Regions from separate parts of the Homo sapiens genome. Here region 2 is linked to region 1. Evidence: fine-mapped expression QTL. A gene starts in region 1. The other region holds a variant in brackets. All regions are shown on one strand. Distances are from middle to middle.

Region 1 (2,905 bases):
TCCAGTAGCTGTTTCCGCTGGGTTTGAGCTTGTTTTATATGCTTGTTCAGATCCGTCATTTCCGCCACTATCTTTTCTTTAAGCCTTGTCTCTACCTTTGTTAGCTTCTCTGGCTTGACAAAATTATTTATTAGACTATGATACGGTGGAAGGAGCCTTCTGGGGCCCTCAGCAAACCTGAAAGAACAAACGAGACATTCCTCTGTCAGTTAATGAAACTTTAGGAAGTAAGTGCACAACTGTCCTTCATTCATACAAGAGAATATTTCTGAGCACCAGAATGTTCCAGACATTATGCAAGGTGTGGGGAATCCAGCTAGTGGTAAAGGATGAGGAATGTAGCTCGTCATTTACAACGTGCATTCACTACAACCCTGGGAGGTATTACCTCAGTTTTAAAAAAGGAGAAAACAGGTTCAGAGAGTTTAAGTGACTTGCCCATGACTCACACCACTAGCAAGTGGCAGAGCCTGGGTATTAAAGCCAGATCTTATGACTTACTGAACACTGTTTGCAGCTACAAAGGGTCACAGAAACAGACTGGGTGGTCAGGAGTAGAAATAATTTTCTAGGCTCTTTCATCATCTTTCCTGAGTTTCTGAGGGACCTTCAGTGACTGGAGGGGAGGAAGCTCCCCTCCAGTACCTACTTGCACCTGGAATCCAAGCATTCATCCTGAAGGTCACGGCAACTGTGTAGTTCACTGAGGGTGACTGCCAAGGAATGAGCGCTAGCATCAGGAACCTGCGTCTGCAACTCGCGGGAACAATGTGCAAGTGTGGAAAGCTCCCGTAGTTTATTCGTTCGGTGCTCAAAGGGTCTCGGTGCTGCCCAGCAACCCTGGAGACTGCACCCTGCTCCAGTCCCGGCTGGTCCAGCCCTGAACTGTTTAACCGCCTCGGCTACCGAATAAGCCCGAGCAGCCGGTCCTCCAGTGGCTCCGCTCCCCGTTCTCTGTGGGCTCAAAATGACAGGCATGCTCCTCGTTTTCTTGCTGTGTGAGCCCTGCCCTCGGGACCCCATCTCTTCTGGCCTTCCTCCGGGAGACAAAAGCCCTCCCAGGCTGCAGAGATCAGCGCCCTTTTCCTAGCTCCCTTCAGCCTTCCTCTCGCTTGCTCAGCGCCCCCACTTCCTCGCCACTGTCACTAGTTGACTCATCAGCCCTGCCCGACGCTAAGAAGATGCCCTGGCAACCGCCGCGCCCCTCACCCGCTCCTTTCTGACGCTGTGGTGGTTTTCGTTCGCAGCCCAGAACATTGCGGAAGTTTCTCTACCCATGCGGTGTCTCTATGGTCGGGTGGGTGGGGCCAGGAGGAAGATGGCGGCGTCCGCAGCTGCCGCTGAGCTCCAGGCTTCTGGGGGTCCGCGGCACCCAGTGTGTCTGTTGGTGTTGGGAATGGCGGGATCCGGGAAAACCACTTTTGTACAGGTGACGTACACAGCATGGGTGTAGTAGGGGAGCGCAAAAGGTTGCCTCCGGCAGGCGGAAGGCCAGGAAGAAAGGGAGGGAAGAGGATTTGGAGGGTACCGGCGCATGGCTTTCGGGGGCTTCCCATCAACTTTAGTTCCTTCCCCGGCAAAGCCTCCTCGGGCCCTAGCCAGGTTAATTAAGGCTCTCTTCTGCGCACCTTCAGGGCATACTCGGTCCAGCTTACCACGTTGTACAGGAATTGTCTTGCTGATAAAATTGCGTTTCTCGGAGGCAAGTTACAAGTAACTTTAAAGATTAATACAGTGCTAGCACACAGGTTTTGGTGAAGATTTGCCAAATATTTCTTGCACGCCTGTCATGTTCCATTCACTGGGGATATAGCGAAAATGAGGTTGACAAGATTCATTCGTGGGGCCAAATATTTAATGGAGGAGATAGAGAAAACCCACATACGAAGAATCAAAACAAGTAAACAAGTGACTACGAGTAGGGGAAGCTTTGTTAGATGGGTGATGAAGAAAGGTAGCATTTGAACTGAGAGTTGTATCTTGGAGGTGGACATGGTGGATATTTCAGGTAGAAGAAAATCTAAGTGCAATATTCTTAAGGCATGGGTGTTAAAGGAATGGAAGTTCTCTCTTGTCCCCTCTTTGTCTCCTTCCAACCCTCTCCCCATATCTCTGCAGAGGCTCACAGGACACCTGCATGCCCAAGGCACTCCACCGTATGTGATCAACCTGGATCCAGCAGTACATGAAGTTCCCTTTCCTGCCAATATTGGTGAGTAAACCAGTAACATAACTTGTGTGCAGTGCTTTAAAGAGAATGGAAAAGGCCAGGCGTGGTGGCTCACGGCTGTAATCTCAGCACTTTGGGAGGCCGAGGCAGGTAGATCACGAGGTCAGGAGTTCAAGACCAGCCTGGCCAAGATGGTGAAACTCCATCTCTACTAAAAATACAAAAAATTAGCCAGGCACGGTGGCAGGCACCTGTAATTCCAGCTACTCGGGAGGCTGAGGCAGGAGAGTTGCTTGAACCCGGGTGGCAGAGGTTGCAGTGAGCCAAGATCGTGCCACTGCACTCCAGCCTGGTCAATAGAGTGAGACTCTGTAAAGCCTCCAGCCTGCCAGTCTTCAGTGCCTTCTTTTTTCATGTTTTCTAAACTATCTACTTTCATTTCCTTTGGATTTGCTTGCATTCCTAAACAGCTTAGGTTTTTTTTTTTTTTTTTTTTTTTTTAGACAGAGTCTCTGTCACCCAGGCCAGAGTGCAGTGGCGTGATTCACAGGTCACTGCAGCCTCAACATCCCAGGCTCAAGTGATCCTCCCACCTCAGCCTCCTGCCGCTATGCTGGGCTAGTTTTGTTTTGTTTGGAGAGACAAGGCCTCTCTATGTTGCCCAGGCTGGTCTTGAACTCCTGGGCTCAAGTAATCCTCCTGCCTTGGCCTCCCAAAGTGCTGGGATTATAGGTG
Region 2 (2,905 bases), 84 kb after region 1:
TAGTAATCCACATACAGTGTGTATTTATGGTAATTCTCATTCACCAGAAAATTCAATTAAACAGGATTTCCCCACCATTTAGAATAAGCCACAGAACCACAGAATTACCAAGTTAAAAAAAAAAAGGCCTTGGGGATCATTTAATGGGATCCTTCATTGTACAGATGAGGAAACTGAGGTCCCAGAGAAAGGATATAACTTATTGAAGATTATTTAGCTCATTACTGGTATAACCAGAACTAGAAACTCCCAATCCAAACTGCTTTCTGCCACCTAAGAATTATTACAAAGCAGGAAATCTTTATATCCAGGGTTACCTGCAGGCTGAACTTAGCCTGCAGCAGTATTTTGTTTGGTTTGCACAGTATTTTAGAAGTTGAGAAATTTAATCTAAAATCCAAATTTGGTATTTATTTAAAAAAAAAATTGGAAACTCTGAACACACCGGGCCTGATATCCATAAAGGGGGCCTAAGTAGTAACAACTGCTCTAGACTGGGGACCTGGGGTCTAGACGCCACGTCCTGCCACTCCCTATCATTGTGCACCTGCCTTGCCTCACCCATGTCATGACCTGCCTGGCCCCTGCAGGCATTGGAATTTGGGCTCTCTGCTTCTGGGTGAAGGGCACTCCTCGGTTAATTTAAAAGAGCTCAAGTGAGCCAGATTGAAAAATAGTGGAGACCATGAGGAATCAGAAGCACTTGTGTTAAGTGCCAGGTTGTAGCACCGGGGTCCCAGCTGGCCCTGAGCAAGCTCAGATCAGGGGCTGGGAAAGACCTCTAGGAGCTTCTCATTTGGGTAAAAAATGTGAAAAGTTAAATAACCATAGGAGGCATGTCACTTGGCAAGATTGGAGGAATTGGCAGAGTGAATGGAACAGGCAAGATGTGCTAACGCTGCTCAAAGGGTCTATGTTCAAAGGAAGTCTCTAATGGAGGTGGGTCTTGGTTCAGATGTCAACCCATTTTAGAGGATGGAGAGACTATGGGCAGAGAAAACAGCCACGAAGCTACTGGGAACGTTGGAGCTGAGGGCTAGCAATAGATGACTACAGATGGGAAAAGGAAGGAAGAGTTGGATACCAGAGCAAGACCCCAAGGGAGGCATGCACAGGGTTTGGTGCCTACATGCAGGTAGAAGAGGAAAGGAGAAGAGTCAAAGTTGATGAAAGCTTTGTGCCTGGGTGAGAATGGTCATGTACCAAACAGAAAAGGGAAACCAGCTGGGAAAGCTGCTTTGTGGGAAGATGAGGAACTCATTTTTAGATATGTTGAGTTTGAGATGACAACAGGGCTTAAGTTTAGAGTTGTCCAATGGGCAGCTGAAATTGGGACTGGGAGTCAAGAGGTCAGAGCTGGTAACCTAGAGGAGACAACTGGAACCACCAAAAGCAATGAGGTCCCTCTCCCAGAGGCAGAAGGCCAGGAATAGGGAACTGAGGGCAGCATGATAAACACTGGATAATAGGCACCCTTGAAAAAAAAAAACTCAGGGCTGGGCATGATGGCTCACACGTGTAATCCCAGCACTTTGGGAGGCCAAGGCGGGCAGATCACTTGAGGTCAGGAGTTCGAGACCAGCCTGGCTAACATGGCAAAACCCCGTCTCTACTAAAAATACAAAAATTAGCCGGGAGTGGTTGTG[T/C]ATGCTTGTAATCCCAGCTACTTGGGAGGCTGAGGGGCAGGAGAATCACTTGAACATGGGAGGTGGAGGCTGCAGTGAGCTGTGCCACTGCTCTTCAGCCTGGGAGACAGAGCAGGACTCCATCTTACAAAAAAAAAAAAAAAAAAAAAAAGCTCAGGAAAGGAAGAGGAGCCAGCACTAGAGAAGGAGCAATCAGAGGGGCAGGAAGAGAACCAAGCTGGAGTAAAACTGCAGACATCTCCCAAGGCAGGCAGAAGGCATTAGGACAGTAACCAGAGGGCACGCCAGAGAAAATAGAAGCTCTAATAAAGACGGAGGAAGGCGAATTTGCAGGTGGTAGGGACGGAGTCCGTGGGGTGGATGAGACTGTGGAACCCTTTTTAACACCTGTGGGAAAAGGGGCTGTGGACTGAAGACCAGGCTGGCCTCCAAGGCTGACTCCCAAGCTAGCTGCTCTGCATTTGCCTAGGGATGGGCTCTTGACTGCTCACTCATTATTCTGGAGATAGGATGGCTCATCTCACATCACTTCCTTATTTTGGACTCAGTTTACCCATCTTTATTTTTTATTTATTTATTTTTTTGAGATAAGTCTCGCTGTGTCACCCAGGCTGGACTGCAGTTGTGCCATCTTGGCTCACTGCAACCTCCATCTCCTGGCTTCAAGCAATTCTCGTGTCTCAGCCTCCTGAGTAGCTGGTATTACAGGCATGTTCCATCACGCCTGGCTAATTTTTGTATTTTTAGTAGAGACGGGGTTTCACCATGTTGGCCAGGCTGTTCTCGAACTCCTGACCTCAAGTGATCCACCCGCCTTGGCCTCCCAAAGTGCTGGGATTACAGGCGTGAGCCACTGTGCCCAGTCATAGTTTACCCATCTTTAGTTTAAAAAATGACCACAGGCCGGGCACGGTGGCTCACGCCTGTAATCCCAGCACTTTGGGAGGCCGAGGTGGGTGGATCACAAAGTCAGGAGATCGAGACCATCCTGGCTAACACAGTGAAACCCCGTTTTTCTACTAAAAATACAAAAATTAGCCAGGCGTGGTGGCGGGCGCTTGTAGTCCCAGCTACTCCAAAGCCTGAGGCAGGAGAATGGCATGGACCCGGGAGGCGGAGCTTGCAGTGAGCCGGGATCAAGCCACTGCCCTCCAGCCTGGGCAACAGAGTGAGACTTCGGTCTCAAAATAAATAAATAAATAAACAAAATAAATATAAATAAATAAATAAATAAAAACGACCACAAAACTTTATTGGAT

Direction of the effects. Positions count from the first base shown, and alleles are read on the strand shown. Sizes are in standard deviations (SD) of each study's normalised expression.
As copies of C replace T in region 2, the expression in cerebellum of the gene that starts at base 1,310 in region 1 goes down (small effect, 0.36 SD a copy in GTEx).

Evidence for each region. PIP is the estimated chance that this variant, and not a neighbour inherited with it, causes the effect.
Region 2: its variant is the best candidate, but not a certain one, in a credible set for the expression of GPN1 in cerebellum (GTEx, PIP 0.63).

Annotation. Positions count from the first base shown.
Region 1 is chr2:27,627,741-27,630,645 of GRCh38, forward strand. It overlaps GPN1 (GPN-loop GTPase 1), which reads left to right and starts at 1,310. Exons shown (of 14, transcript NM_007266.4): 1 at 1,310-1,429; 2 at 2,119-2,212. The coding sequence starts at 1,319. It overlaps CCDC121 (coiled-coil domain containing 121), which reads right to left and starts at 1,272. Exons shown (of 2, transcript NM_024584.5): 1 at 1,210-1,272; 2 at 1-177. The coding sequence starts at 59. RefSeq lists a silencer at 242-536 and enhancers at 985-1,044, 1,105-1,414, 1,455-1,554.
Region 2 is chr2:27,711,390-27,714,294 of GRCh38, forward strand. The region is part of intron 1 of LINC01460 (long intergenic non-protein coding RNA 1460); the gene reads right to left. Among named protein-coding and RNA genes, the nearest start is that of LINC01460, 2.9 kb to the right of the region's middle. The variant T/C (reference allele first, on the strand shown) is at 1,647.